7 linked regions of the Homo sapiens genome follow. The protein of the gene in region 3 purifies or fractionates together with the protein of the main gene of each other region. This does not show direct contact. Each region holds a gene or a part of one and is shown on either strand. Other genes may lie near its edges. The genes, in order: CLGN, PPP1R2, PRCP, SGPL1, EPB41L5, STK24 and PRG3.

The links.
Region 1: the proteins of PRCP (region 3) and CLGN purify together in Homo sapiens (co-immunoprecipitation; one large-scale study listed by IntAct). This does not show direct contact.
Region 2: the proteins of PRCP (region 3) and PPP1R2 fractionate together in Homo sapiens (co-fractionation; one large-scale study listed by BioGRID). This does not show direct contact.
Region 4: the proteins of PRCP (region 3) and SGPL1 fractionate together in Homo sapiens (co-fractionation; one large-scale study listed by BioGRID). This does not show direct contact.
Region 5: the proteins of PRCP (region 3) and EPB41L5 purify together in Homo sapiens (co-immunoprecipitation; one large-scale study listed by IntAct). This does not show direct contact.
Region 6: the proteins of PRCP (region 3) and STK24 fractionate together in Homo sapiens (co-fractionation; one large-scale study listed by BioGRID). This does not show direct contact.
Region 7: the proteins of PRCP (region 3) and PRG3 purify together in Homo sapiens (co-immunoprecipitation; one large-scale study listed by IntAct). This does not show direct contact.

The regions. Positions count from the first base shown.
Region 1 is NC_000004.12:140,392,656-140,397,160, forward strand, and holds part of CLGN (calmegin precursor), read right to left. Parts: intron 3,551-4,505; coding exon 3,437-3,550; intron 3,315-3,436; coding exon 3,164-3,314; intron 1,387-3,163; coding exon 1,171-1,386; intron 57-1,170; coding exon 1-56. UniProt on the Homo sapiens protein: Functions during spermatogenesis as a chaperone for a range of client proteins that are important for sperm adhesion onto the egg zona pellucida and for subsequent penetration of the zona pellucida.
Region 2 is NC_000003.12:195,513,648-195,517,351, reverse strand, and holds the end of PPP1R2 (protein phosphatase inhibitor 2), read left to right. Parts: intron 1-409; coding exon 410-456; 3' UTR 457-2,924; downstream 2,925-3,704. UniProt on the Homo sapiens protein: Inhibitor of protein-phosphatase 1.
Region 3 is NC_000011.10:82,893,658-82,898,162, reverse strand, and holds part of PRCP (lysosomal Pro-X carboxypeptidase isoform 1 preproprotein), read left to right. Parts: intron 1-4,505. UniProt on the Homo sapiens protein: Cleaves C-terminal amino acids linked to proline in peptides such as angiotensin II, III and des-Arg9-bradykinin. This cleavage occurs at acidic pH, but enzymatic activity is retained with some substrates at neutral pH.
Region 4 is NC_000010.11:70,870,682-70,875,186, reverse strand, and holds part of SGPL1 (sphingosine-1-phosphate lyase 1), read right to left. Parts: intron 4,140-4,505; coding exon 4,041-4,139; intron 3,351-4,040; coding exon 3,201-3,350; intron 1,837-3,200; coding exon 1,598-1,836; intron 1-1,597. UniProt on the Homo sapiens protein: Cleaves phosphorylated sphingoid bases (PSBs), such as sphingosine-1-phosphate, into fatty aldehydes and phosphoethanolamine. Elevates stress-induced ceramide production and apoptosis.
Region 5 is NC_000002.12:120,071,554-120,076,058, reverse strand, and holds part of EPB41L5 (band 4.1-like protein 5), read right to left. Parts: intron 2,882-4,505; coding exon 2,839-2,881; intron 1,960-2,838; coding exon 1,881-1,959; intron 584-1,880; coding exon 539-583; intron 359-538; coding exon 306-358; intron 1-305. UniProt on the Homo sapiens protein: Plays a role in the formation and organization of tight junctions during the establishment of polarity in epithelial cells.
Region 6 is NC_000013.11:98,454,493-98,458,997, forward strand, and holds part of STK24 (serine/threonine-protein kinase 24 isoform b precursor), read right to left. Parts: intron 2,813-4,505; coding exon 2,676-2,812; intron 685-2,675; exon of another isoform or gene 1-684. UniProt on the Homo sapiens protein: Serine/threonine-protein kinase that acts on both serine and threonine residues and promotes apoptosis in response to stress stimuli and caspase activation.
Region 7 is NC_000011.10:57,377,884-57,382,875, forward strand, and holds the start of PRG3 (proteoglycan 3 precursor), read right to left. Parts: upstream 3,268-4,992; 5' UTR 3,231-3,267; intron 2,899-3,230; 5' UTR 2,826-2,898; coding exon 2,765-2,825; intron 1,925-2,764; coding exon 1,611-1,924; intron 930-1,610; coding exon 798-929; intron 1-797. UniProt on the Homo sapiens protein: Possesses similar cytotoxic and cytostimulatory activities to PRG2/MBP. In vitro, stimulates neutrophil superoxide production and IL8 release, and histamine and leukotriene C4 release from basophils.

The sequences.
Region 1 (4,505 bases), on a different chromosome or scaffold from region 3:
AACCAAAGCCATGGGTGCCCTTCAGCAGCTGCCATTAACTGTTTTAATACACCAGGCTATAGACGAGATAAGCATAAAAATGCAATTCAAATTTTACAAACCTTTACTGGGTAACACAAGATACAAAAAAACTTATTTACTCAGGCATTTTACATTAAGGAGTGATGAACTCGTAAGTAAAAGAAGTTTCATTTTCCCACCTTATACTTTGTAAAGTCTAATTTAATTATTAGCATGCATCACTGAGTGAGACTTGATAGCAGAAGGTATGTTATGACAAAAGTGGAAACTTCTAACATACTGGCAAGAAAAATGGTAATTTTCCTTTTTGGTAAATTTCAGAATAGAACTACCTTTTATGGATGTATTACCTGGTTTATTTGAAGTGATCATTCATTCTGTACTCTGATCATTCATTCTGTACTTTTAAAGAACTTACTAAAAATCATACCTCAGAATTGTTTTCTTTTTTATATAAACACATTTCACACATAAGACCCTCAGTAAGGATATTATTTCTCTTATTAAAATAAAATTTAAAAAATCAAATGTTTTAGTTACAAGAGGTTCAAAACAAGAATCCCTCTTCACCTACTCTTTTGATGGTTTTTCGCTAGTGACCCAAGGAACCAAATGTAAGGTAAGAATTTTTCTTTATAGCAACTGAATTTAATGATACATTTTCTAAGATGCATTGTGTTGAAATATTTAGCCCAACCTTTTCTAAACAGTGTTAAGGTTTCGGGAAAAAACTGGAACAGAATTTAATAATGTTAAACTATAAATTCTTTGTACATTCCTCTAAGTAAAAAATAGTTAAATAAACAGTAATATTTAGATTATCATTGTCACTTAGGTCTTGAACTGGCAAGATGACAAAGATATTAAGTAGTCTTCTTCTATGAACAGTAAATAAGCATTAAATCCCATTAGTGATGTTATAATTTAATGAATAAAATGAGGACTTACATATGCATATATAGCTCATAATGAAGTAACATAAAAAGCAAAATATTCTGTCTACATAAACTTATTCAAACACATTTCCTTGGCATTTAGTAGTTACTGCACATTTATTTGCATTTAAAAGAGCCATCTGAATAACCTACAACCAAGACCAAGTATTATTATTCATAGTTATATCACTACTGCTATTGGTCAACACCATACCTTATTAGCATTTGCTATCATTATTTTCCATCTCCAACCATCTGCAGCCCAGTGATCTGCTACTTCCTTTTCCGAACAGATAATAAAATTATCAAAGTAGATATCAGAGGTCATAGACCAAAGCTCTAAACCAAGAGCACTGAAAGAAGTCAGAAGAAATGGATGATCATCTTCGAAATAATCTGGATTAGGAATTTTTCGAGGACTCCAGATTCCCTGGAAGAAAAGTAATTGAAGACATTTTCAAATAAAATAACTTCATTATAAATGCTGCTTAATAAGTAGCTGCTGTTGAATGAAATTCGCAATGCTAACTGGAAAAAAGAGAATTTTAACTGATATTAATTCATTAGTAATATACTGGATATAAAATCTTGTTTCTTTTGCTGTGTACACAATGTTCCCTACGAGTGATACTAACTTTAAATTCTGCAAGAAAAGGAAAAGGGAAAATCCAACATAAACAGAAACGTGAATAAATTTCACAATTTGTCTACTTTGGACAAATTTTTAGATTTAGTAAAGTTATTCATTGCAAAATGTTATTCAAGTTGTCCAAATCAGAAAGATCATTGTATAGCAAAAATGGAGTTACTCCATTTAACATATACCCATGACAGATATCATTAATCAGGTATGGTTGAATCTCGGCACAACTACTCAACCTAAAACTTCCATTAGATCTTAAATGATTAAACTGTCCATTAAATCAAATACATTCAACAATATCATTGCTCACTGACTCACTCCACCATCACATGTATGTATTCTGGGCCAGGCACTATGCCAGATGATGGAGACATACATGGTTCCTGTATTATGGAGTTTAAAGTCAAATAAAAGAGACAGACATCAAACAAAAAAATTTACCAAAAGAAACATTTTGTGTTAAATGCTTTTAATAAAAACTACAGTGAGTAATTAGAATATGAAACTGCATATATATAATGTTAGAACGTATCCATAAATAATTACAAAGATAAAACTAGAGGGTTAAGTGGATAACATAGAAACTTTTAATATAAAAAGCTAGGTACACTCAAAAGATGTCGATTGATATCAGAAAAAAATCAGGGCTGGGTTCGGTGGCTTACTTCTGTAACCTGAGCACTTTGGGAGGCCAAGGTGGGCGGATCACGGTCAGGAGTTCGAGACCAGCCTGACCAACATGTGAAACCCCGTCTCCGCTAAAAATACAAAAGTTAGCCGGGCGTGCTGGGGTGTGCCTGTAATCTCAGCTACGTAGGAGGGTGAATCAGGAGAATCGCCTGAGCCCAGGAGGCAGAGGCTGCAGTGAGCCAAGATCACGCCAGGCCAGGTTTTTTGTTTTTTTGTTTTTTTGTTTTGAGTCTTGCTGTGTCGCCAGGCGGGAGTGCAGTGGCACGATCTCAGCTCACTGCGATCTCCACCTCCAGGGTCCAAGAGATTCCCCTGCCTCAGCCTCCTGAGTAGCTGGGACTACAGGCGTGCGCCACCACATCTGGCTAATTTTTTGTATTTTTAGTGGAGACAGGGTTTCACCATGTTGACCAGGGTGGTCTCCATCTCCTGACCTCGTGATCCGCCCGCCTTGGACTCCCAAAGTGCTGGGATTACAGGCATGAGCCACCGTACCTGGCCAAAAATCAGAATTTTAATAATACTAAATAATAAGTACATTAATTAAGCACAGGCATTAATTACTAAAATGTACAATATGAGTCTATTTGATCAAAATTCACTTCTTATATTTACTTCTAAAATAGAACTTTATTTCAAAGTGAGCATCAACTGATAATTAGGGAAGAATATAGTATGAAGTGATTTATTTCCCCAGAAAATTAAATAATTGATGCTCTACTTTTAAAATATAAATTAGTTGAGGTCTATTTTCTTTGACATCTTAAAATTAAAAATGAAACTTCCAAAAGTTGACATAGGTAATTAGATATTTAAATAGAAAAGATCACAACATTTTTAACTTCACTAAATAATTGGAACAAGCGGTTGTTACCTGATAGTTAGGATTATCGACCAGTGGAGGTCTCCATACTCCTTTGTATTTTGGGTTATCTATCATGGGAGGTTTCCACTCACCACACCCAATCCGACATGCTGGATTAAGAATCTGAGGTGCCTCCCATTCTCCATCCGTGTCTTCATTCCTTAGGATATTAAAACAAAGCAAATACAGTAACCTCAAGTCTCAGATCAGTCATATAAACTAGTAACAAAAATGCATGTAAGAAACATTTGAAATCGACATTTGAAGATGAAGAGTGCTTACCAGTCATCAGGTTTTTCAGCATTAGGATCAGGGATAAATTTTGGTTCATCATCAAGCCAGCCAGCAGGTTTAACAACACTTGAATCTTCTATTTGGGCAGGTTCACTTTCATCCCTGTAAATACAACGTTTTATATTACTAATTATTCAGAAAGTTTAAAAATGCATGTTACAACACTAAGAAGGTACCATAAAATTATTTCCCTCCCTTTTGTTTGTGCCTGTTATTTGTCCTCATCTACTACCCACCTAAATCTTTTGCTAACTTGCCAATTTTTGGTACATATTCCCTGTTGTGCTCTATGCATACATGCACACACGTATACATTCTTTTTTTTAATACGAATGATAGCATTCTATACATAATGTATTAGACCTTGCTTTTGTTACTTAAAAACTCAGTCATTCATCAACAAATATATATTGCATGCTTACTATGTGTCAAGACTGTTCGAGGAGCTCCATTATTATTATTTTTTTCTTGAGGTGGAGTCTTGTTCTTGTTTCCCAGGCTGGAGTGCAATAGTGCGACCTCAGCTCACTGCAACCTCTGCCTTCCGGGTTCAAGCAATTCTCCTGCCTCAGCCTCCAGAGTAGCTGGGATTACAGGCACCTGCCACCACGCCTGGCTAAGTTTTTGTATTTTTAGTAGAGATGGGGTTTCACTATGTTGGCCAGGTTGGTCTTGAACTCCTAACGTCAGGTGATCCACCCACCTCAGCCCCCCAAAGTGCTGGGATTACAGGCATGAGCCACCATGCCTGGCTGGAGCATATATATATACATATATATATATATATGTATATATATATATATGTATATATATATATATACACATATATATATATACACATAGCTTCATTCTTAACAGTTGCATAGTTTTCTACTTGAGGATACACCATAATTTATTTAGCTTATCTCCTCTTGGAGGACATTTAGTGTTTCCAAAATTTTACTATTATTAATACAAACAATGCCATAGTGAATGTCCTAGAATATATGCCATTTCTCATCTGTGAAAATATAATTGTTAAGAGTATGGACATTTTAAATTTTGATAGTAGCATCCA
Region 2 (3,704 bases), on a different chromosome or scaffold from region 3:
CAGTCTCCTCCCTTCCCCCTTTCCTCCCCCATTCACACAATTCATTGGAGAAAATGACATGTTTGGACTCTTAGGTGATATTTTATAGCTTTCAGGTAATAAATATGTATCTTTTTATAGCTCTGGATATTGGAGTTGTCGTAAACTCTTACCTTTCCACCTGTGACTTACAGAAATGTTCAATCTGAAACCTGTTTGTTTTATCAGCAAGTAGACACTTCTGTTCTTTAGACTATTTAGGGGAGTGTATAGATTCTTCAATTTCAGTCTAAATCAGCCTACATGAAATATACCTTATTTGTTTTTAAAATTTTTATATTTGCTTGTCATGCATGCTAATAGAAGGGAACTTTAGCCAGGGTTGACAACATATAACAAATTATGTTGACTTTTTCTTTTATCTTTGCAGGATCTACTCCAAGTGACCAACAGCAAAACAAATTACGAAGTTCATAGACGAGATTTGTTCAACACTGCAATTGTTTGTTAGATGTAAACCCTGTGACTATAGTACGTTGCTTCTTGTTCTTCACAATTCATGACTTAAGTACCAAAATGCATACCAGTTATTATATATTGCCAAGAATTAAATGATAAACTTAGAGACTGATTAGACTGAAAATGCCTAATCGATATATATATTCTTGTGCCTAGTACTTTACCACAAATACAGTGTAATATCATCAGTCCAAAACTGCATTACTTTTGTAAAAACACTGGTTAATTTGTATAAGATATTATAGAGCTTTTTATGCTTTAGAAGTTAAACAATATCTTTGGGGGGGAACTAATTTATTTTCATCACTTGAAATGTGGTAGCTCTTACAAAGTTTATTGATTTGATTTTTTTAAAAATCAAAAGCCAATTGAACAACAGGATATATAGACTGATAAATATTTAGGCTGAATAGTATTTTAACACTTGTCTTCAACTTGATTTGTCTGTTTAATTGAAAAGAATTATAAGAGTTACTGTTGCATTTTCTGACCTACTATTTTTAAAATTCCTGTTGAGTTTCTTTGTGTTTACAAGGAAAGGACTGAACTTTTTCTCATCAAAACTAGCTTTTTTCCCCACAAATAAATTATCAGGTTAAACTTTCACCAATGTCTGCTCTGTTTTTTGTTTTTGGGGGGTTTTTGTTTGTTTTTGTTTTTTAATGTTTTTGGTACACTGGGCAGACTTCAGAGCAGTTTTTTAAAAAAATAAATATTCTAATGTAGCTATCTCGCCATTCCCTTTAAATACCTGTCTTAACCTCCTGCTTTTCTTTCCTACTCCTTTCCACACATACGCACACAATCTTCTACCTTTTAAAGGATCATTAAGACTGTCACCACATTAGGAGCTCTTTCTCTCACTCTTCTGTCATTTGCTGCTATGTTGAAATTCTTATTTTGACCATCAATGCCTATGAATTCTTCTAATACGTGAAGAAAATAGTTTGAGTAGCAGCAGTGCTATAGGTGGGAAATACAGTTTAGCTGCTGAATTTCTATACCTCTCTGATTTACAGATTGCTAATTAAATGGCTATTATTAGTTTGGATTAATTAGACTTAAGAAAACAACTAACTGAGGGTTTTTTTTGTTTGTTTTTTGAGGGTTTTCTTTGCATGAGAATTGTATGTAACCAGTGATATGATTATTCCTGAATGTACAGACAGAAGTAAGCCTGGACATTGTTAAATAGTCCCTGCTTTAAGGGACTACGATAATGTGTACTATGACAAACGTGCTTTATTCTTCTAACGCAGTAAGAATTAGGTGGAATTTTTTCCTTCAACCAAGTGCAGGAAAGCCCTGTGTGTCTTGGTTTAGTTATGGTTTCATTTCTAGCCATACAATTGATGAATTGTGTACAACTTTTGTTAGTACCAAAATAATCTGTTATATGAACAGACTTCTAAAATAACGTCTGTATATTTTATATATAGATACATATATGAAAGAAGGCTTTTATTGAACAGCTTATCTTCCACTTGCAGGTTTATGGAAACAGCAGTATTTGAAAATAAATAAAAAGTGGGAGAATTCCTTGCTGTTAGAAGAATGTGGCCATTATTTTGATTTTTTGAATGAGATATATAATCAAAGTACTGCTGAACTGTGAGTGCAGTATTCTAAACATTTCAGCTAGGAATACCACTGATTTAGAAACAAAACTGTTTGTCTCTGGTTTCTGAATTTAAAATGTTGGGATTACCTGTTTAAATCTGTCTTGGGGGATGTAGAGATTAAGTCTGTACATGTGCGTGCACATATATTCATGCACCCTCTGATTTTGGTTTTCTTGTTTCTGAGTTCTTAGAAAGTACCCACATACTCTTTTTTTTTTTTTGTAGAAGTAGCTGTCATAGAGTGAAGAAAAGGATAAGACTTTAAACAGTTGATTCTTTTTGTGTTTTCTACAAACTATTTTTTGAAATTTAAATCACAAACTCATTTTCTGGTTTTTAGAAAGTAGATGATGATTTCAGAGGAGTAAGGCATGCCAAGCAGCATGCTCAGTGGGGTTTTAGGCTGTCACATGCAGCTGAGAAAAGGTATGTTCAAGTCATAAGTAGGTAATTGATAGGGTATGAACTAGTCAAAATATGAACCATTATGATTCAAGTTAGATTTTCCTCTGGAGAGACAGATCTGAATGTTCAGTTCTAGCCAAGGTAGATTTTACTTTCAACTTTTTAATCAGTATCACTTTCTGTGCTTAACTATTTGGTGTTACCTTGTCTGTTTTCATTTGTCTAAAATTCTGCAGAGATGACTAAAATTTGACATAATGGTGTAAATGGATTGTTAAGGTAACTTTCAGTTGAAGATTAAAGCAAGATGCCATTTTCCCCATGACTTTGGTTTTGTTTACATTTTTCCCTTTCAGTTAGTATACACTACACGTACTGTAATAAAATACAATAATATGACAATTGCCTGTGTGTGGATTTTATTTTATTGTTACTTAGCTATCTCAAGACCATAATCCATCGACCACTTGCCCTGGATACCAGGAGTGGATCATGGATTACGCTGTGGCCGAGTAGTTTCCTCAGTCTTAGTAGCATTGTGCTCAGTCCCTTACATCTAACCCTCAAAACCACCACACAAAGGCAAGCATTCTTATCTACACTTTGTAAGTGAGGAAAGTGCTCTTGGTCAACTTATTTATTAATCATTTCAGTGCCTCACACATGCTAAATGATAGGATTTAAATCCAAACCTAACTAAATTTCATGGTCTTTATTCATACATTTTTTGATGTAGAAAACATTTTAGAAATTGTACCTTACAAATAAATGTATATGGATTATTGATCCATAACTATGCTTTAGGAGTAGCATTTTTCAGGTGTTTGAGCTTCTGGGGTTTTTTAAAATCTGAAAAATTGGAAATAACTTAATTTTGTTTGCAGTTTGTGTGCCATCTAGGAAAAATCGCTCAAAAGCACAAATAGCCAGTGGCTGGAGATGAATGCATGTCATTTGGTTGTGTTTTGCAAGTTTGTTTCTTAGCAGGCTGTTTCAAGCTCAGAACGTGATTTTTTTCATACAATCCATCTTAACAAGTCAAGGACCGTGTCAGCCTATAAAAGCCAACATGTACCCAACACAGGATTGCCCAGTGTGTTCCATGAAACCCTTATCCCACACCATGCTCCGTGAAAATGAGGCAATAAACAAGCCTCGCACATACTGTGTACTTTATTC
Region 3 (4,505 bases):
CCAATTGAGTTTTATTTCATTTTCTGAGGAAAACTTTTACATATGTATTTATTGCATAATTATAATTATACTAGTTGCCAATTTCTGAACCATTGATTTTTAGTTAGGACTATGTGTGAACTCAACTTTAAGTTTTTAAGTTAGAGCACATGAAATACTTTGATGCCTTCTAGTAATAAACTTATTATTAAAACTGTAAGGCTTAGTTTTTTATTCAAGGTTTAATTTTTATTAAACTTTATAATGATTTACCTGTGGTTATATCTGCCCCAGTGACCAAGCTGGACCCAGCTGTCCTTCTATGTATATAAAGGATGTGGTTTTATGGAGTGGTCTCTAAGAAGGCTTAGCCCATGGTCTTATCCCTCCCCTGCTTAGAAATTCTTCATAACTCTGATTGCAGGATAAAGGCCAAACACCTTGGCATGGGAATCCATTGTTCCTTACTATGTAACCCTAGCTGGTCGTTCCAACTTTATATTCTGCCATAATTCCCCATCCCAGCTCCCACTTTTAGCAACCTAACAGACTCAAGTGACTTTTACTGTGTCAGAAATTCTGTCTGGAATACCATCCCTCTTCCCCACTATTTAAACTCATAATTCTATTCCAGCAGAAATGTCTCACCTCTTCTGCGAATCTTTGACTTCTTTAAGGAAATTTAGTTGGTCTTTTTTCATCCTGCACATTTACTATATTGTATGTGTCCCTCCAGCTCGTTAGTACTCTACAATACCTAGAAGAGCCTATAAAAAAGTATAAAGCACAAAATAAATAGTTGTTGAAAGAGTGAATGCATGATTATTCAAAAAGAACCTAAACAAAGCAAAGGCTACCATCATTTAATTGTCACAAATCATTTTTTATTTTTCTTTTTATCTTTTACTTTAATTCTTTACTAATTATTTTTTCCTCCTTTTTCAAGGTCTTCAAATATTGAGTTAGGTAGGACTATTTGATTTCTTTTACCTGAAATAACTGAATTAGGAGACCAGAGAGAGGATAGTACATCACTTGGGCACATCGAGGCTCTGGGTACATGTGTAGTATGTGTGGTATCAGTGTCATAAAGGGCTCTCTGGAATATGTGGCTTGTGGTTACAATGTTGCATGCTTATTACCTTGTACCTCCCACCTGAGCCCCTCAGGCTAGAATGTGAGTCCCAAATCACACATTTTAGTGTGTGATGTAGTGAAGAGGGAGAATGGGTCCTGTCAGGCCATCATTTTTCTCAGTGGTAAAATTGGGAGCAATATCTATTGTATTAGGGTGTGTGTCTGTGTGTTTCTCTCTCTATGAGAGAGATTTTTATTAAGGAATTGGCTCATGCAATTGTGGAGGCTTAGTAAGTCCAAAATCTTCAGGGTAGGTTGGAGGCTGGAAACCCAGGGAAGAGTTGCAGTTTGGATGCCCAGGCATTCTGCTGGCAGAATTTCTTCTTGCTTAGGGGAAGTCAGTCTTTTTTTTTTTTTTTTTTTTTTTTGAGTTGGAGTCTCGCTCTGTTGCCCAGGCTGGGGTGCAGTGGTGAGATCTCGGCTCACTGCAACATCTGCCTCCTGGGTTCAAGTGATTCCCCTGCCTTAGCCTCCCGAGTAGCTAGGATTACAGGTGCCCGCCACCACGCCTGGCTAATTTTTGCAGTTTTTAAAATACAGACAGGGTTTTACCATGTTGGCCAGGCTGGTCTTGAATTCCTGACCTCAAGTGATCCACCCACCTTGGCCTCCCAAAGTGAGGGGAAGTCAAACTTTGTTCTATTAAGGCCTTAAACTGATTAGATAAGGCCCACCCAAATTATGGAGGGTAAAGTCCACTGATTTAAAGTCCGCTGATATAAATGTTAATCTCATCCAAAAAATACCTTCACAAAAACATCTAGAATGATATTTGACTAAATAGCCGGGCACCATGGCCTATAAAGTTGGCATATAAAATTAATCATCACATCCACCAAGGTTGTTGTCAGAGTTCAGTGTCGTAACAAATGAAAGCCACATGGATGGTGCATAAAACATGGTAGGAGTTTAAACAACTTGATGGAACAAGTGCTAGTTCCTTCACAACTCTGTCCTGAAAATACACTCTCATCCAAATGCATGACAATAGTGGTAATGCCTCTTCTGAAAACTTAGTACCCAGCTATTCCTATTTAACTGCTGATCATTGTTTCTGTTACAAGTCTGTGTGTTGGCCCAGCATTGAGCTCATGGTCACTGACTTCTGCAGCTCCTTCCTCATTTGCTGTGAGGGGATCACATCAGTGGGCTAAGCTATTTAAATTTATGTACATCCTTTATAGTTCCACTTTCAATTGCTGTTCTAGGTTCCCCTTTCCCACCTTTGTCACAGTGGCCCTGATGTCTAGTAAAATGTTATGTCTAGCTATGTTAGGCACCTTGTAGGGCATGTTGATAAAGATCTTTCTCCTCCTCCTTTAAATTTTTCTTCCCCTTTCTCCTCTTCTTATCTGTTCATCTATTGATGGACTTTCCCTTAGGCCTGGAGTGTCCTGTCAGAAATATTGTGTGAATTCAGAACTGATTTATGTGTTTGGTGACACAGAATCATTTTTAGAAGGGGCCTTAGAGATCATGTAGCCTTCCCCTTAGATATGATGGATTGACCTTGATCTAAATTATAGAGGGTCAGAAACTTGATAGAGCTTGAACAGGAGGGTGGTTAAAAGCACAGCTTTTAGTGCTGGGTGTGGTGGCTCACACCTGTAATCCTAGCATTTTGAGAGGCTAGGAGGATCACTTGAGGGCAGGAGCTAGAGACCAGGTTGGGCAACATAGTGAGACCCTGTCTCTACAAAAAACAAAAAACAACTACAACAAAACCTAAAGCATACCATTTAGAGGCAAACAGGTTTGAGAGCAAGTTCTGTTTCTGCCACTACCTGAGTAAGTTACTCAGAGGCAGCCCCTATTTTCATAATCAGCAAAATGGAGATAATTATATTACCTATACCATAAGTTTGTTGTAAAAAGAGGTGGTATGTGTAAAGTGCATATTTAGCACAGTGCATAACAGTTAGTAAACAATAAATGATAAACATTATTTTTATCTTGCAGTTTCCTAATGTACATGGCTTTAATTAACCCCTTCACTTTTTTAAAATCAATAGGATTAAAATAATCAATACTTTAATAGATTTGTGGCCTAGGAATTAACCTTTTTTCTTGCTTAAAATCATTCTTTTCACACAAGATTCTGTACATAAAAAGAAGCATATGAAACTATTTCTATTTTTCTTTCTATGCTATTTTAAGTGTTGATAAAGTGTTGGGGGGAAATATGGTAATGAATTTACCCTTTTAGGTTTTTGGAAGTACCTTCTTCTCTTGATAACAATAGTAAATCTAACACTGTCTTTCTGATAGCTGAGTTTTAAATTTCTTACTAGCTAATGCTAAAATCTAATTTCAATAAAAATTAACTTTAGGTTTTTCACTGACTTGTTTATATTCCTCTGTCAGCATACTGCAGGAACTTTGTGCTTTAGAGAATTTAGACTTTTAAAACATTTTCAAAGTTTGGGTTCTAGGATCAGCCCTGCCACTAAATCACATCATACTTTTGGGCAAGTTGCCTAACCCTCTAGATCTCATTGTACTAATTTGTAAGATAAATGGATTGGATCTGCTGATCTCTGATTTACCTATAATTTTGTTCACTGAGTGCCTCCTGTTTATAGGGCACTGCGTTAGGAACAGTGGGAATGTGGGTACAAGTTTTGTTTTTTGCCATAACATTAATTGCCTTTGATGAATTGGACCTAAACAACTTTACTATCTTGACTTTGAATAAGACACAGACCCATAACATATAAAGTGTTTTTAAATTAAAAAGTAATCACCTCTTCAATTGGTACAATATTTATAATATTGCATAGTTGATTTATATTATAATATAATAAAACATTGTGTTTATGATTTTAAAGTTTGCTTGGTTGTGGGTCTATTGCAGAAGAAAGGAGAATCATAGGTAAGGAGAATACCTTGATGGTAGATCTTATTTGTCTTCATTTCTAGTGCCTTGGATGGTACTTCTTTTTATTTTTTTATATGGTTCTGACAGGATATGGTACTTCTTAATAAAGATATTATGAATTGAAAAAATTGACCATAAATTAAAATGAATAAGGAGTAAGAGATGAAAGTAAAATTACATATGTAGTGTAAATGTGTCTAATGCATTATTAATGATAGTAATTTACTACCATTTATTGAAAGCTTCAAATACCGTAAATATTATCCTAAGTACTTAATAGACATTCACTTAATTAATCCCTATTACTGTTCTATGAGGTAGATGCTATTATTCCATTTTGTAGGCAAGAGAACTATCCTTTTTGTTTGTTTATTTTTAGACAGGATCTTGCTCTGTCACTCAGGCTGGAGTGAAGCCATGTGATCATAGCTCACTAGAGCCTTGAACCTATGGGCTCAAGTGATCCTCCCACCTCAGCATCCCGGGTAGCTGGGACTACAGGTGTACACCA
Region 4 (4,505 bases), on a different chromosome or scaffold from region 3:
TTCCAAGGCCCAAACCCCATCTAGATCTAATGACTCAATCACTGACTTCGAACCTGTCTACCCAACTCCCAATTATATTCCCCTAGATGCTTCTGAGGCATGAAAGATGTACTAAAAAAATTTCTGGAAAAGTAATCTGCCCATCTCCACAGTTCTAAAAAGTCATATGTAATCCCTAAAGCAAGAAATGGTATAGCAGGTCTTAATAAATGGCCCTATCAGAGCTATAGGAGGACCTTTTATATATATCTAATTTTTATTTATTTGTTTGCTTATTTATTTGAGACAGGGTCTTGCTCTGTCACCCAGGCTAGAGTGCAGTGGTGTGATCATAGCTCACTGTAACCTCAAATTCCTGGGCTGTTCAAGCAGTCCTCTTGCCTTAAGCCTCCTGTGTAGCTGGGACCAAAGGTGCACACCACCACATGTGGCTAATTTTTATTTTTATTTATTTTTTATTTTTGAGATGGAGTTTCGTTCTTGTTGCCCAGGCTTGAGTGCAATGGTGCCATCTCAACTCACCGCAACCTCTGCCTCCCGGGTTCAAGCAATTCTCCTGCCTCAGCCTCCTGAGTAGCTGGGATTACAGGCATGCGCCACCACGCCCGGCTAATTTTGTATTTTTAGTAGAGACGGGGTTCTCCCTGTTGGTCAGGCTGGTCTTGAACTCTGGACCTCAGGTGATCCACCCGCCTCAGCCTCCCAAAGTGCTGGGATTACAGGGATGAGTCACCGCGCCCGGCCTCATGGCTAATTTTTAAATTTGTTGTAGAGATAATGTCTCACTATGTTGCTCCGGTTGGTCTTTAATTCCTGAGCTGAAGCGATCCTTTTGCCTTGGCCTCCCAAAGTGCTGGGATTACAGGCCGGAGCCACCGTGCCTGGCCAAGGATCTTTCTCAAATGAGAAATGCCTGCAGGCAGCTTTCCTTCCCCCTCAATATACTTAAAGAGCCTCCCCAATCCAAGTGACACATAGAGAGATGGGCAGATAAGATGTTAACAGATACATTAGACAAAGCATGCAGCCTGTTCTGGCCTTGGCTTAACCCAAGATTTCATTGCCCTCCTTTCCTCATTCCTTCTGGCCCATTTCCAATTATTTTCTTATTCCAATGATTCTTCAAGTATGATTCCTGGAGCAGTAGCATCAGTATCTCCAGAAATGGAAATTTTTAGAGCCCATCCCAGTTCCACTGAATCAGAAACTCTAGGGGTGGGCCCAGCTACCTGTGTTTTAACAAGTCCTTCAGGTGATTAGAATGCATGCTCAAGTTTGGGAATCACTGTCCTAACCATTAAATTGTACATTAGCCTTAGGGTAAGAGCTGCCAGTTATTAAGACATCCATAGAGATGAGATAAACTACAAATGAGGCCCCCGTCTCAAAGACCCTCCAAAAGTCAGGGCAGAGAAAGGGAGCTTCTTCTCCCAGGCCAGCTGGTCTGGCCTAAGCCCTAAGCTGCTGCCCTAAGCCCTCTATATCGCAGGAGACAACAGGTGGGCTAGGGCTATGGATACTTAGCCAGGCAGGTGCCTTGAGCCTACTAGGACAAAAAAGCAATAGACAAGGCAGAACCCCAGTCTTCCACACATACTCTGACTTGAGGAAGCGAGCAGTTTTGATGATCTGTTTGGTAGCTTCAACATAGCCGTTCTCACCGAAGTGCATCAAGGCAGCCCAACAGGCTGCGCTAATGCCACCAGGCCGTGAGCCTGCGATGGTTGGGGAAGCATAGATGCCACCCTGCCAATCTGTATCGACGAAGAACTGATAGTTCCTGTACTTCTTGTCACTATACAACACCAATGATGAGCCTTTTGGGGCATAGCCATACTGTGGAAGAAGTAGCAGACAAGAAAAGTGAGAGTATAGTTCTGTCTGGCAGACCTTGTCCCAGAACTCTCATCATGCAAAGGAAATCCTATTTATTTCTCAGTTTCTCTGTTATGTTTCCCACTCACATTAAGGATTCAAACTTAAAATGCTAAAGGATAGTAGGAACTTAAGGGATGGAGTTTAAATTCTCTCTGTTAGGAATGAGGAATCTGAGACCCAGGGAAGAACAGCGCCCAGTTAATCGGTTTACTCCCTCTCTTGCCCAGCATGTGGTTTACCTTATTTAAAATATTTCTCTGGAGACCATATGTCAGGATGAAAGCAAGGGTAAGTTTGCAATGGAAGCCAGGAAAGGATGGAATTTGTCACTTCAAGTTAAAATCACCATCTGACCCCCTTCCCATCTTTTTTTGCTTAGTATTACTAAGAATATTATGCTTATGAGAACATAATGGTGCTCAGAAACTAAAAGCTACTTAATCCAGCTTTAAAATTAACTATGTAACTGGTTTCCTTATAGAACATCTGACCCCCTAATTAACTCTTATTAAAACTAACGTGGAACTAATTTCATTACCTGAACCATCCAGAAATGGATGGTTATGGGAAAAGGACACAGGAGCTATCTGGATGGTAAGGAAAAAACAGATGCTGACTGAAAATCGGCTGCAGATCACACCGATTTTGAAAAACAAGTCTTTAATATACTTGAGTTTAAAACAAGCTCTGAAAATGCAATCAAAACAAGGTACACATTCCTGAGGCTGCTAATACTTCTTCCACATCTGGATGTATATTCAATAGCGTTATCAACTGATCTAGACTTTGTCTCAGTCCACCAAGGGTGGCAGGCGTGGCCATCTCAAATGCTGAATGTTCCTGAGCACACAGGTTCTTCCCATTTTCCAAAGGACTCTTCCGTCAACATTTTCCCGTCATGTACGCTCAGGAGCCCAGTTGCACAGCAGCTCTAATGTTATCTACCAGCATGGGAACTCCACTACCAACCCTCACACTCCTCTACCCTCCACCTCAAATCAGCTCAAGGCTTCAGGGAGCTTTTTTAACAAGGGCCACTACACTAGCATGTTCTAGTTACACACAGTCAGTGGATACAGAAATTCTCTTAGCCAATTTGAGATAAAGGTAACAGGTTCATTTTCACTACTGCTTGTCACCTCTACCACTATACCCCATCACCTGAACCAGCTGATCTGGTGACGGCAAAGAGAGAGTTTAAAACAAGCATCTGATGAGAATTCTATAGTTAATTTTATACTTTGCGGGGAAGCTACCAATTTATTTTATCAATAATAGTCAAAATAATCAACTGGTAACACTTGATCTCCTCCTTAGCTCACCTTATGGGTGTCAGCTGAAATGCTGGTTACACCTTTCACCCGGAAATCAAATGGGTGCTCCAGTGGGTATCCTGCTTTCTCCATAAAGACGATGAGGAAGCCTCCCAGACAAGCGTCGACATGAAGGGGTATTTTGTATTTGACAGCCAGCTTGTTCCAAAAAACAAAGAACATAAGAGAATTTCCTTTATAGCCCTATAATAAAAACTGCAAGACATGGGTGGAAAGATGGGCTATAAACACAAGGCTATTTTGTATTATGCCTCCCATGTTTTTAAAAAATGGCTATTTTTAACATTCCCAACAAAATTTATCTTTCAAATGTATTTTCCCTTCAAAATAATTCATCTGAAATATGGTATCAATTTTATATTTAAATATGCATGACCTCAAACGCTCTGCGGTATCAAGCAGGAAATGAGTAGAGCTCTGATTTAGGCTGCCTCTCGCACAAGGGAAAGGTCCTGCCTCAGTCACTGCAGGATGAGGCGTGAGGGAAAGGGAGGCGCTGAGGGGCAGCATGTGGAATATCACCCTTTTGGTGGGCACATTCCTACATGCAGATTATTTCCAGATCTCAATCTAGAAGGCAATCCTATTTCAGAATTTCCAGTTTAAAAGGCCTCAGCCTTGTACTATCTTCCCCCACAGCAGAGACTAGCAACTTTTAAAGGCTTGCAACTGAGCTGCAGGGCTTCCCCTAGGGCTGATGAGAGCTACTTATCACTACTGTGGTCAAAAACAAAAAAAAAATCGCTTCTATTTGCCAAGTACTGCCCCATTAGGCTTTGTTTTAAAATATCCATTTGCCTGCCTTAGCAGCCCATTTCTCTCATATACCTTGGCCACTTCAGGGACAGGATCTATTACACCATGAGGAAACTGTGGGGTAGAACAGACGAGCATGGCAGTGTTCCTGGAGATAGCTCTTCTCATTGCCTAGGGATTTAAAGTTTAAAGGAAAATGAGAATCTATGTCACAATTACTCTTCTCTTCTGCTGCCAAGAGCAATTTGGGCTGCTAGCTTAGAGTTCCAGTTCCACCAGTACCCCCTCCTTCACCACTCCAACTGGGAGAAGACTGCATCCCACCACGGTGACAGGACACAGGTGACTCCAGGTAAGTCCATTTGGAGAATAGTCTGAGAGCACAAAATAAGAACAGAATCGCTGTGGGGGCGAAAATAATATTGAGCTAAGAGGCCAAAGAGCCAAATGTGAGCCCCAGCCCCACAACGTACCAGCAGTGAAACCCTGAGTATGCTACTTCAGTCTGTTCCTTATCTGTGAACTACAATAATATAA
Region 5 (4,505 bases), on a different chromosome or scaffold from region 3:
CTCCTACATAACTGCATTTCTTTTAAGGAAAAAGTTAGCCGAAGGCCCAATCTTAGCATTTACAGACTTATCAGGTAGAGTATGACGTTTCAACACTTTAGGTGGAAAGGGCGCAATTACATGAAAGAGAAGAAAAAGAAGGCAATGTTCTAAAACAAGTAAAAGTCAGAGTTGGACCCTGATACAAGTTTATACAAAAACAGTGTTGTTTCTTTTCTTGCACATAATTAGAATCTTCTTTAACTAAAAACACACACAAAAAAGATTATACTTGAGTCTTAACAGTCAACATAAGAATTGCTTACCTTGCAGATTATAAGCTGCCAATTGCACTGCTGTATCAAAGGGACAGTCTAATCTGAGACCAAAACACAAGTTTGTTAGACAAGTTGATTTCATAACCTTCATTTTAAGACAAATGAAAATAATACATGTTTTATGTTGACCATTTCTTTTTTACAACTATAAACTTATTTTCAAAATAATTTTTCAACCACTCACGAAAATGTGCATTTATCCTTAAATAACTAATACTCACTTTCCACTGAGAATATCTTGTTTTAACTGAAGAACAAATAAATACCTAAGAAAAATGAAAGGCACAAATTTAACCCAACAGCACAATCGACTGTGAAAAAAAATCTTACACTTCTAACTTGAGAAGTATTATTTCATTAAAAATTACTTGTATTAATGTATAAAAGATGTGCATAGTTTGGGGATACATGAAATAATTGAATACATTCATATAATTTGTAAGGATCAAGTCAGTATACGTGGGGTATCCATCACCTTAAATATTTTTCTCTTCTTTATGCTAGAAATATTTGAATTATTTTCTTCTAGCTATTCTGAAATGTAAAATACGTAATTGTAAACTATAATCACCCTACTGATCTAACACTAGATCTTAGAAGTATTCTTAATTAAAGGCCTGGTGCAGTGGCTCACACCTATAATCCTAGCACTTTGGGAGGGCGAGGCGGGTGGATCACTTGAGGCCAGGAGTTCAAGACCAGCCTGGCCAACATGGCGAAACCCCGTCTCTATTAAAATACGCAAATTGGCTGGGGGTGTGAGCACGTGCCTGTAATCCCAGCTATTTGGGAGGCTGAGGCATGAGAACTGCTTGAACCTGGGGGAACAGAGGTTGCGGTGAACTGAGAACATGCCATTGCACTCCAGCCTAGATGACAGAGCGAGACATCTACTTGTTATGTGAAGGGATACAGACATGGATATAACTACAGATGATAGCTACTATCTCATTGTCAAGGTGTTCTAAAGGAAACCCTTCTAAAGGAACTCAAAAGCTCAACTTTTTCATTTAATAAATAGTATGTGTATATGGAGCAATGAATTTATAATAGAGACCATGAATAAATACAAAGGAGGCAGGATAACATTAAAATAAGTATATACAACATAAGGTTTATTCAAAACTATTCAAACCAATCAGAATCTAATGTTTTTCATTAATCAATGGCATTTCAATGAGTAAAGAAAGTTGGGCGCCAATTTGAATAAACTCCCTGTGGCCAAAGATAGATTATTTTCAACATCAATAAATATAATATTGCAATGTATTGAAACATGTGAATCCTGTTAACATTCCTGAGTTGAGAGTGATACTTAAAAAAAAGAACTCACTAGTCACCTTTGGAGGATGCTAAGAAACCAACTCTTTATTTTGAAAATGCTAAAGGAAAAGAATCATACACTTAAAAAACACGTCCCAGAATAAAATTCTATTATTTGAGGTCTTGTTACCAGGGGACAGGAATCCATTTTATTAGCTGGCTATAAATTGGAAACAATATAAAGACAGTCTTTCAAAACTATCAAAATAACCCTGGCACAATTCTAGATGGTGTTCTTACCGGGTTAGCTCCTCACGAAGGTTATTTGGTTCTGAGGAATAAAACTTAACTCGAAGATGCAGACAATAGGGTGAACCAACTGTCATTTAAAAAAAAAAAAGGTTTTAATAAAATAAACTACTTAAATAATACTTTTCAGCCAGAAAACTGGTCAAAAATCTACTGAAGTGAGACAAAAGATGAGGTTTTTATGGCATTATTGCAGGTTAGATCATAGGCTTCAATTAGATTGTTTTTTAATGTACCAAGCCATCATATTACTATTAACTCTCATCCCAAGAATAGACAGCTATAGATTAATTCTAACAGTTCAGAGCCAAATGCATCAAATAAAAGTCTTGACTGTGCAACCTAACAGCCCTGAAAACCTGCTACACTGAAGAATGCCTATGTTATTAACTGCTCATGGTGAATCTTCCCACACAAATACAATTCAGCAAGTTCACTAACTTCTATAATCTCAGTGGTCTCATTATTTTGAGACAAGAGTTGAGGTGCCCTAATAAGTCTGATAAAAAGTCAAGTTGGATAATGAATAAACAATGGTATTCTCTCTCTGAATGACACTAACATTTTATGTGAATTGTTTCATTTTTCTTAATTTTAAAATATCACAAAGTCTCAAAATACTTTCAATATTAGGGCAGATGCCAAACAGGAAAATTCCAACACAACTAATTAAAAAATAACCATTAAGCATTTCGGGGAAAGTCAATCCCATTTGCAAGCTGCAAGGTTTTCTCCTGGAAAGTTAAGCCCCAATGCAGTTTAATCTAGATTAGTATCAAGCCTACATGACTTGGGGAGTAGCTCAGTGTATCAGAATAAAATAATTTCTAGAAAATGGAAATGCTAAAAAACTCATCTGAAACATGATTTCTTACATCCTATTAGAAATCAGAATTTCTAATATATTCTATTTCCTTTCCCCCCCACAAATAATTTTGTCTGCACTTACTTTTTACTTGCTTTTTGATGCTTTTTGTACCATCCAACCAATGCTGAAAAACAAAAACAAAAATTTAGTTAAGCAGATGACAGAACTTTAAAATTTGAATGAATTACTAAAAGTTACTTTTCATTGTGCCTACACTGATAACCGCAAGGAAATACTTCACAAGAGAAAAACCCAAGTGAATGAGAAAAGAGGTGAGAAGGAAGAGTATCTAGCCAATATCCACCATAGCAAGCTTATGACACACGTGAACAAAAACGACCTAAAACCTGACAGATGACTTTTTTTTTTTTTAAATACTTTAAGTTCTGGGATACATGTGCAGAACGTGCAGGTTTGTTACGTAAGTATACACATGCCATGGTGGTTTGCTGCACCCATCAACACATCATCTACATTAGATATTTCTCCTAATGGTATCCCTCCCCTAGTCCCTCACCCTCCCAACAGGCGCCAGTATGTGATGTTCCCCTCCCTGTGTCCATGTGTTACCATTGTTCAACTCCCACTTATGAGGAAGAACATGCAGTGTTTGGTTTTCTGTTCCTGTGTTAGTTTGCTAAGAATGATGGTTTCCAGCTTCATCTATGTCCCTGCAAAGGACATGAACTCATCCTATTTTATGGCTGCATAGTATTCCATGGTGTATATGTGCTACATTTTCCTTATCCAGTCTATCATTGATGGGCATTTGGGTTGGTTCCAAGTCTTTGCTATTGTGAACAGTGCTGCAATAAACATATGTGTGCATGTGTCTTTATAGTAGAATGACTTATAATCCTTTGGGTATATACGCAGTAATGGGATTGCTGGGTCAAATGATATTTCTGGTTCTAGATCTTTGAGGAAATCACCACACTGTCTTCCACAATGGTTGAACCAATTTACACCCCCACCAAAAAAAGCATTCCTATTTCTCCACATCCTCTCCAGCACCTGTTGTTTCCTGACTTTTTAATAATGGCCATTCTAACTGGTGTGAGATGGTATCTCATTGTGGTTTTGATTTGCATTTCTCTAATAACCAGTGATGATGCGCTTTTTTTCATGTGTTTGCTGGCCATATAAATGTCTGCTTTTGAGAAGTGTCTGTTCATATCCTTCACCCACTTTTTGATGGGGTTGTTTTTTTCTGGAAAATTTGTTTAAGTTTCTTATACATTCTGGATATTAGCTCTTTGCCAGATGGATACATTGCAAAAATTTTCTGTACATTGTACATTTTGTACATTGCCTGTTCGCTCTGATGATAGTTTCTTTTACTGTGCAGAAGCTCTTTAGTTTAATTAGATCCCATTTGTCAATTCTGGCTTTTGTGGCCACTGCTTTTGGTGTTTTAGTTTGAAGTTTTTGCCCATGCCTATGTCCTGCATGGTACTGCCTAGGTTTTCTTCTAGGGTTTTTATGGTTTTAGGTTTTACACGTTTAAGTCTTTAATCCATCTTGAGTTAATTTCTGTATAAGGTGTAAGGAAGGGTCCAGGTTCAGTTTTCTGCATATGGCTAGCCAGTTTTCCCAACACCATTTATTAAATAGGGAATCCTTTCCCTATTGCTTGTTTTTGTCAGGTTTATCAAAGATAAGATGGTTGTGGATGTGTGTTGTTAATTCTGACGCCTCTGTTCTGTTCCATAGGTCTATATATCTGTTTCAGTAGCAGCACCATGTTG
Region 6 (4,505 bases), on a different chromosome or scaffold from region 3:
GTCCTCCCAAAAGCACACATTAGCCACGGAGCCTAAGACTCAACTATCAAGAAATACAAATGACTAAATCACGGGATGAGTTGATGTCACACAAAAGAATCCAAACATTAATTCCAGCTGAGACAGAAAGGCTCTGAAAATGCTTCAGAGGAGAGGCGGCTCTCATTTTTCCTACAGCCATCCACTGAAACAACATGTTTGGAGCAAAACTGGCAGGAAGTCTAAGCCATGGCCACCGTGGTTTTGGCAGCCATCGGGGTGAACGCTCAGTGGGAGCTTCAGGAGCAGGGAAGGAAGAAGTGGGTACCACAGCCAAGCCTGCAGAGAGATGATAAGCACCTCAAGAGGCAGCTCATCTGAGGACAGAGGAGGAAAGAGGGCACTCCTCATCACAGACAAAGGAAAGAGAGCACCAACTTGGCTTCCCCCATGCATCACTGCAAAGTAAAGTTTTAAACACAACACAGACATCAGGTAGCTACAGACCCGCCCGAGGGTAAATAGGGTCAACCCCAGCCACGATGCCCAGTGAGCACGTAAAATGTGCTGCGTCTGAATGGAGATGTGCTAAGTGTAAAACACACACCAACTCCAAAGACGGTCCCTCCAAAAATGTAAAATACCTTATTGATGATTGTTGTTATTAATGTTGAAATAATACTTTGGATCTGGCAGGTTAAAAAATGTATTGTTGAAACTAATTTCACTTCTTTTTGCTTTTTAAAAATATGGCTACTAGAAAATGTAAAATTCTCTTTTTGTTTGGTTTTTAGAGACAGGTTCTCACTCTGTTGCCCAGCCTGGAGTGCAAACGTGATCACAGCCATAGCCGCGAACTCCTCAGCTCGAACAATTCTGCAGCCTCAGCCTCCCAAGTAGCTAGGGCCACAGGTACAAGCCACCATGCCTAGCTAAATTTTTTTTTTTTGGTAGAGACAGGGTCTTGCTATTTTGCCCAGGCTGGTCTCAAACTCTTGGCCTCAAGCGATCCTCCTGCCTGGGCCTCCCAAAGCATTGGGATTACAGGCATGAGCCACCACATCCAGCAGAAAACATAAAATTCTGTGTGTGGCCCACGCTGTACTTCTACTGGCCAGCACTGGTACAGATCAACTTGCCTTAACAACTAAAAGAAGAGGAACAGAGAGATAGGGGCCTGGGAATGGGAAACGTGGATCAGTTCAACACATACAAGCCACACACTCTGTGCCCTGGAGCTGCCCTGGGGAAATCAAGTCACGTATATAAACAAACAGTTCATAACAATTTCAGGCAATTCTGGACAGTGTGGAAAGTATTGGTTTTAAAAGTAATACTACAAAAGCAGAGAGCAAAATGCCCAACAAGACAGTAACAATCCTACCCGTTTCTGGTTTTGTTCTATTTGTTTTATTATAAAGCTCTTTCTAATGGGAAATAAATGCCTCTAGAATGAGGTATGTGATGCTAAGTTTGAGAAATCAAAAAGTTTGTGTTCAGGCAAAAGATGGGTGACTTTTTAATTCTATTTTCCTTTATTCCTATATTGTTTTTAGTATCAAAGGAGGGAGGGATCGTCCTTCAATTGCCTCAAAATTGAAGGCAGCCAAGTAGATCATTTTTATTTTCTAGCAACTTAAAAAGTTGAAATGTCTTACTAAGAAACCCGAGTTCAGAAGCATAAACGTGAAGTATCAGAACTGTGGTTTTCTCCTGCTGTCCCCACGTAGAGGGGCTCTTCACAGGACAGTAGGCAGCCCCTTCAATCACTTCCAAATAGCAAAAGGGACCTCACGTGTGCAAAACTTCTTTATGTACTGTCAGGTGGGACGCAGTCTCAGGAAAGACCCAGAAATCCCCCTCATGATCACAGAGTCTCAGCCAGCTTTGGGAGGTGTCAGCCTGGACACCTGAAGATGAACTGTCAAGGCAGCAGCACGCCTGGTCCTCCTGGGGGTGTGGAGGACAGCCCAGTGACAAATCACCCTCAGGTCACACAGAGCGGCTTCCCAGCACACATCCACTGCCTCCAAACGCCTGCACTTGTGCCAGATGGCAGTCAGGAGGGGCTTGGTTCCCATGGATACTCCTACAACAAGTTGGGAGGGGGCAGGGAGGGCAAAACTGTCACCCCACTGAGTCCTCACCCATAGTGCATTCAACAGGTGGGGCCACTGGGCAGGGACAAAAGCTCCCTACAGGCTGGCACAGATGAACCCCTACCAAGGAGGCTTCCAGACATGACACACACAGCTAACACAGGGAACACACCTGCGCCCGCTCCCGCTGAGTTGACCACACCAAAGCTGCTGTCATTTCTCACACTTGACTTTAAAGCCGAAAACCAGATAGATAGTTACACACATCTGGCTAAGAACGATCATTCTCTGGCCAATAATTAAGCTGCATAATTAAGAGGAAACAGGTATTTCACCACCACCCTGTATTTATGTGGCAAAAGCTACAAATGCACTAAGTCCTGTGGGCTTTCCAGTAGTTTCCAGATTCAGATCCTTCATTCACATTGATTTCTAGAATTCAGAACAAAGTCTCCTCTAATTCAACTCTGTCTACCCTGAGGCCTGCAAGATAACAGGAACAGACAGGCCAAGAATCAAGTACCAAACTCATCAACTAAGTCCCAGCCCAAGTGCAGGTCTCTCCTTCCCCAGCCCAGAGGGGCCCTGGGTAGTTACCTCTGGAGCCGCTGCACGAGCTGGGCCACCATGGTGTCGGAGATGCCAGGGCACGCCTCCTCCGCTAGGTAGATGGCCCCTCGCAGCTCTTCAATGGACCCCAAGTTCCCTCCGCACGCCTGGCTCTTCTCCTTCAACTGAAAACACACGAACAGGAAGAATGGCATGAAGCACACCAGCTGCAAAACTGGGAAGCATGCTGTTCAAGGAACAACACGGCGTGTGGACCACGACACTACCCCAGCCCCAGGGTGTCCGGGAAAAGCTTTGGCTAGGGCTCCAGGCCACTTCAAATTGCTTTTTTTTTTTTTTTTTTTTGTGAGACGGAGTCTGGCTTTGTTGCTCAGGCTGGAGTACAGTGGCGTGATCTCAGCTCACTGCAACCTCCGCCTCCTGGGTTCCAGCGATTCTCCTGCCTCAGCCTCCCGAGTAGCTGGGATTACAGGCCCCTGCCTCCATGCCCAGCTAGTTTTTGTATTTTTAATAGAGACAGGATTTCACCATGTTGGCCAGGCTGGTCTTGAACTCCTGACCTCAAGTGATCCGCCCGCCTCGGCCTCTCAAAGTGTTGGGATTACAGGCGTGAGCCACTGTGCCCGGCCCGGGTTCCTTTTGAAGAAAGGTGATTCAAATGCTCTGAGAGCAGTTATGTATACACAGGGCAATCATCAGACCATAATCATTACTGTTCGAGGCCAGAACAGAGACGACTAGCTCTCTGTGTGCCTTTCCCAAGTCTCACCGTGATGGACTGTCCTCTCTGTGCTGTTTTCCTATTTCAACCATAACCTTGTACCAGAAAAGCAATTTCAAAGCCTATCCTAAGTTATTCTGATCTCAACACTGCTTACTTCCTAATGTTAATGGGTTGGTTCTTAAACTCCAGCAAACTGCCTTTGTGATCCAGAGTAGAGTCAAAATATTTGATTTCATGTAAATAAGTGGCAGCCTTAAATTCTGGGAATCTCCAGTGTTCTTCCTGGCACCTCTACTCCCAAGAGAAATCACAACAGTGCCTTCAGACACTTCCCTCAGTTGAAGGTCAACTCCAAGTCTCTCTCTGGAGGCCCAAAAACGTGAACTGTGAAAATAAGAGCTGTTCAAGTCAAGATACAGCATGGCTCAGAACTCAACAGAAGAGGCTCTTTGTGATGGACACCGCCTCCTCTTCAGGGAAGAAAGAAACATCTCAGGCGACATTCAGCTTGGTTTTCAGGTTGTTGAACACATGCTGTCATTTCCAAACCCAGCCCTGCCCTAAGAGCAACGGCTTCTCTCTTCGCTACTGAAGGGGCAGGCAGGAACTAGAAGGGTCTGACCTTGGAGGGCCAGTGGGTGTAGAGAGCATTTGTTCCTGAAGTTCTTGCTGTCACAGGGCCACGCCGCCGGCCCCGAGGCGGCCACTCGTGTTTGTCTAGGACTCCCAATCACTTGACAGTATTTACAAGTCCCGAGAGGGTCAGCTACAATCCAGCACTCTCCCTCCTGCCCATGCCCCGCCCCTAAGTCTCAAAGAAGGAGCAAAGGCGGCAGAAGGGCCGCCCTGGGAGAGGGCCTGTCCCCTTGCCGTGTGGAACGTGCTGGACCCATCACTGACTTCAGGGAGCAACCTGACCTGTGCTCCCTGAAGGAAAGCAGGGACGCCAACACCCGTCTCCTCAATGTCCTCATCTGTAAGCATGGGGATATAATCCTTCTACTGGGCTTCTACAAGTATTGTATGAAATAATACACAATAAACACTCTGAACTCTAGGGTAGCAAATATCATTCTTAAAAATACATTGGGAAAGATGCCTGTGAGTTTAGCAATTGGTTACCTGGAAAATCC
Region 7 (4,992 bases), about 26 Mb from region 3:
ACCTCATGGAATACCCCCTGTTGACTTCTCTCACTGCCTACCTGGCCAGGAGCCAGACACCCTAGAGAGCCATTCCTAAGAGTTTCCAGGCAATGACAGGAAGAGCAACCATCTCTCTCAGCCATCACACAGAGCAGGCTTCTCAAACTTTACTGTGCGTACGTTATCTCCTGGGGATCTTGTTAAAATGGAGGTTCTGATTCAAGAGGTCTGTGGTGGGGTCCAAGATTCTGCAGTTCTAACAAGCTCCCAGGGGATGGTGGTACTGCTGATCTATGGACCATACTGCTGATCTATGGACCGTACCAAATATAATGCCACTTATTCACCCACAATTCCAGAACCACCCTGAGAGAAGAAGGTCCCCATTTCAGGGATTGAAAAAAAACAGAGGCTCCAAGAAACCTATTTAACTAGCTTTCTAAGTGACTAAGCTGGGCCTGGACTCTGTCTCATGACTCCAGTGGTATGCTGGTAAATGTTTATACCAGCTCTTGGGGTGGGTGGGAGGATGGGGAGTAGAAAGGAGCCCTGATGTGTAGCAATTGCCTATTTCCTTTGTGTAAATACTCCCACCATGGCTGATGTCAAGCTGCAAGCATGTAGTCACTGAGCATGGAGTTGGTAAGAGATGTGCACCATCAGTTCTCCTGAGCCAGTACAAGCCATCTCCAGCACATCATTGCCTGCCACATTAAGGAAACCTTAGCTGCTGGCCTGAGGCTTGGCACCATCAGATGCTACTTTAACACATTCAGAAAGAACTTACTGCACCCAAGATTTGGCCCCTGACTTACCCAGCCCCTGAGGTTGCCTCCAATCCAGACCTGGGCTTGGTTGACTGTGCTAGTGCAGCACTGAATGCGATAGTTGAAGTTGAAGTCATGGATAGAGACAAGGTTGCCTCCGTAGCATCTGCTGCAGACATTCTGCAGACGGAAACAAAGTAGAGAATTCCCTCTCATTTATTTCAAGTTTCTGAGTCTCCAGGCAAGAGCCCGGCATCCCTTTTCAGGTTAAAAATAAACCTACTTGCCTCCCTTAATCCTATCTTTTGCTTCTTAATTAGCTGTCAGGACAATCCTACAGGAAATGATAATACTCATAATAATTATAACCACCGCTTATTGAGAGTTTATTACAGCCCAGTGACTATTCCAAACACTTTTCATGTATTATCTCATTTAATGCTCACCACAACTCTAAGAAGTTGGTGCTATATATCTTCGTTTTACAAATGAAGGTGCTAAAGCTTTGAAAGGCAAAGCAACTTGCCCAGGTAACACAGCTAATAAAAGGCAGAACCAGAATTTAACACAGGCGTTTCTAACACCAAAGCCTTTTGTTTAAATCGGTGGTTCTCCCCAGACCAACAATATCATCATCACCTGGGGATTTGTTGTAAATGCAAATTCTCAGGCTTCACCTCAGCCCTCCTAAATCAGAAGTCGTGCAGGTGAGGCCCAGAAAGCTGTGTTTTAACAACAACTCCAGGTGATTCTGATGCATGCGAGGCTTTGAGAACCACTAGCCTAAATGAATAGGGAACAGAAGACTGAATGTACTCTCTTTTCCCCCAGGTCCTCCGCAGTAGCCTCCCTACTACTTACCTGAGCTTCTGCAAAAGTTTTAGGAGTCCGCACCAATAGGTAGCGGCAGATCTTGCACCTTGGACTTCCCTGCACTTCAACAATGTCTTCTTCCCTGGGGCACTGGAAGTCCTTGTCTAAGGCAGCTGGGTCCGACTCCATGGCTTCCTCATCCTCAAAGTTGTCTTGACAGGCAGAAGCCTTGACCTCCTCTCCCTCTGCCTGAATCACCTCCTCCGTCAGAGCCAAGTCTCTCTCCTGCTCCTTTGAACTATCCAGATCCTGGCCTAGGTCTGCCTGTGTCTCTAGGCTCTCCAGATGGGGGGCATCATTCTCTGGGAAGAAGAGGTAACCTGCCATCAGGTCAAGAGCTTCCTAGTTCCAGCACCGTGGACAGCTCCAGCAACGTCGCTCGAGCTTTCCTAGGAATTCCACCTGAAGACAAGACTGGAGGATTTCCTTGGTGTTAGGTAAGGAGAGATCTCTCGGGTCACACCCACAAATGGACAAGAACCTGACTTCTGGCCGACACCACGAGTGTGTGTTTTGAAGGTGGGAGAAAGCACGTGTGAGAAGCCTGGGGCAGTCACCAGCCCTTCATCTTAACAGGTGGGTGGTTTTTCCTTCTGAAAGTTCAGGTTACAGTTTGCCGGGTGCGGTGGCTCACGCCTGTAATCCCAGCACTTTGGGAGGCCGGGGCGGGCGAATCACAAGGTTAGGAGTTTGAGACCAGCCTGGCAAATATGGTGAAACCCCATCTCTACTAAAAATACAAAGATTAGCCAGGCGTGGTGGCATGTGCCTGTAGTCCCAGCTACTCAGGAGGCTGAGGCAGAAGAATTGCTTGAACCCGGGAGGCGGAGTTTGTGGTGAGCCGAGATCGCGCCACTGCACTCCAGCCTGGGCAACAGAGCGAGACTCCGTCTCAAAACAAAACAAAAAACAAACAAAAAAAAAAACAAAAACAACAACAACAAAAAAAAATCAAACAAAAAAGAGAAAGTTCCAGGTTACAGTTCTGAGTCCAAGTGATATCTTACCGGAGATGAGCTGTATCAGCTAAAGAGGGAAGGCTGTGGTCCTGGCCTCATGAGTGCAAATAAAAGCGGGGGGAGGGGAGTGTAGGAAAAAGGAAAAAAGGGAAAGACGCATGAGGAGGGAAGGGAGAGACTTACCCAGATGAAGAGCAGAAACTGTTCCCAGCAGGAGAAAGGGCAGGAGCAAGAGGCATTGCATATCTACTGTCTTTTAGCGAGGACACTACTCCACCGTCCTTCTTGGGGCTGTCTTTGTGTGTCTAGTATAGCCCCTGGCACATAGTATAGAGGGAATATTTGTTTAATTGTTTGATTAAAGAGCAAACAAGATTGCTTTCTCCTCTTGCCATGAACAGACCCTGAGCTGGAGAGTCTAGAAAAGGAATGGTGGGAGGGATAACTCAGGTACCAAATTTCATTTGTCTTCCAGTCTCCGTTGCTGCTCTCCAGTATCACCCTTAGCCCAGACTCCTGCCCCTGCGGGGACAGGTCTGCTTAGCTATGATGTTCCTAAGGACAGGCCTCCTACGTGTTTGCCCTATGAGGTGCTGCTTCTTCCCAGGGCCTACACTGGTCCTGCCTGGGCAGCCAGAAAAGAACTCACCTTCCAAGAGTCTGAGACCTCCACTCTCAGTGCCTCTGGCTTCAGGGGCCAGAAGCAGCCTTTATACTGGGTTTTTGGGGAAGTGGGAAGAGGCCAGAATGATTGCTCCAGGACAGAGTGGGGGACAAAGGAGCTGATAATGAAGTTTGCTCAGTCTTCTCAACCCTGTGCCCTGCTCTCTGCTGGGACTGCAGGGACCTGCCTCCTGGGGCCTACTGCCTTGTTTGGGTACCCCACACCCTGGTTTGCTTCAGAAGGCCCTAGATGTTATGTCCATTGTCCAGGCATAATTATTATTTATGCCCCCTAAAATGCCCCAGTCTGAACAACACGCCTTAACTCCAGGAGTAGCCTCCTGCTGGTGGAATCCCAGAGAGTGAAGTGGAGATCCCAGGGAGCTGGTGGGAGACAATGGGGGGAAGAAACAAGAGGGGAAAGGGAGGTTCAGTGCTCCCAAGCTCTCACCCATCCTAGGGGCATAGTGTGCAACACACCCCTCACCCTCATCTCCGCATCATCTCCACCAGGTACCACCCCTACTTCACAGAGGCAAAATGTGAGATTCAGAGAAAGAGAGAAGGCAACTTGCCAAGGTTCCATGGGAAGTGGAAGAACTGGAATTTCTAAGTCTTTTTGACTCCAAAACCTTCTCTCTTTCTTTCCTCTCTCTCTTTTTTCTCTCCCTTCCTCTTTCTCATCTTTTTTTTTTTTCTTTTTGAGACGGAGTCTTGCTCTGTCGCCCAGGCTGGAGTGCAATGGCAAGATTTTGGCTCACTGCAAGCTCCACCTCCCGGGTTCAAGCGCTTCTCCTGCCTCAGCCTCCCAAGTAGCTGGCTAATTTTTTGTATTTTTAGTAGAGATGGGGTTTCACTATGCTGGCCAGGCTGGTCTTGAACTCCTGACCTCGTGATCCACCCACTTCGGCCTCCCAAAATGCTGGGATTACAGGCATGAGCCACTGTGCCTGTCCTCATCTTTTTTTTTTTTAAGAGACAAAATCTTGCTCTGTCACCCAGGCTGGAGTGCAGTGCTGCGATGATAGTTCACTGTAACCCTGAATTCCTGGGCTCAAGTAATCCTCCTGCCACAGCCTCCTGAGTCACAGGGATTACAGGCACAAGCTTTCTCATCTTTAATGTGTGAAAAATCTACATCCTTTCTTCTGTGCTGTGGATCTAGATCAAGGTTCCTCAACTTTGTGCTATTAATATGTGAGGTCAAATAACTCTTTATTGTGGAGGGGCTGTCCTGGGCGTTGTAGAAAGTTTAATGGTCCCTCTGGTCTCTACTCACCAGATGTCAGTAGCCCCTCTCCCCACCCCCGCAGATGATCAAAAATGTCTCCACATGTTTCCAAATGTCCTCTGGGGAGAAAAATGGCCCCAGTTGAGGATCTCTGATCTAGGATATGCCACCTTGCCCAACCTCAAGGCATAGCTTCAGGGCTGGCAAACAGGCAGCATGAAAAGCTCCATACAGAGTCTCTCCAGCACTCTGTAGATCATCCTCTCCAACCAACACTCCCCTCCTCACCTCCCATCTCCCACCAGTCTTCTGTCACCCCAGGGTCTGGACTAGAATCAGGCAGGGGAGGCTCTCAACTCAGACACACTAAGAAATTAAGGGGACACTAAGAAATTTACTATTCAAGATAAATAACATTTTAATGCAACATTTCTTAAAAATTGAAATTAATGCAAAACAAAACATCAAAATTTTAACTGACCAAGCTCTAGACAAAATTTGCTGCACTTTAAAGAGA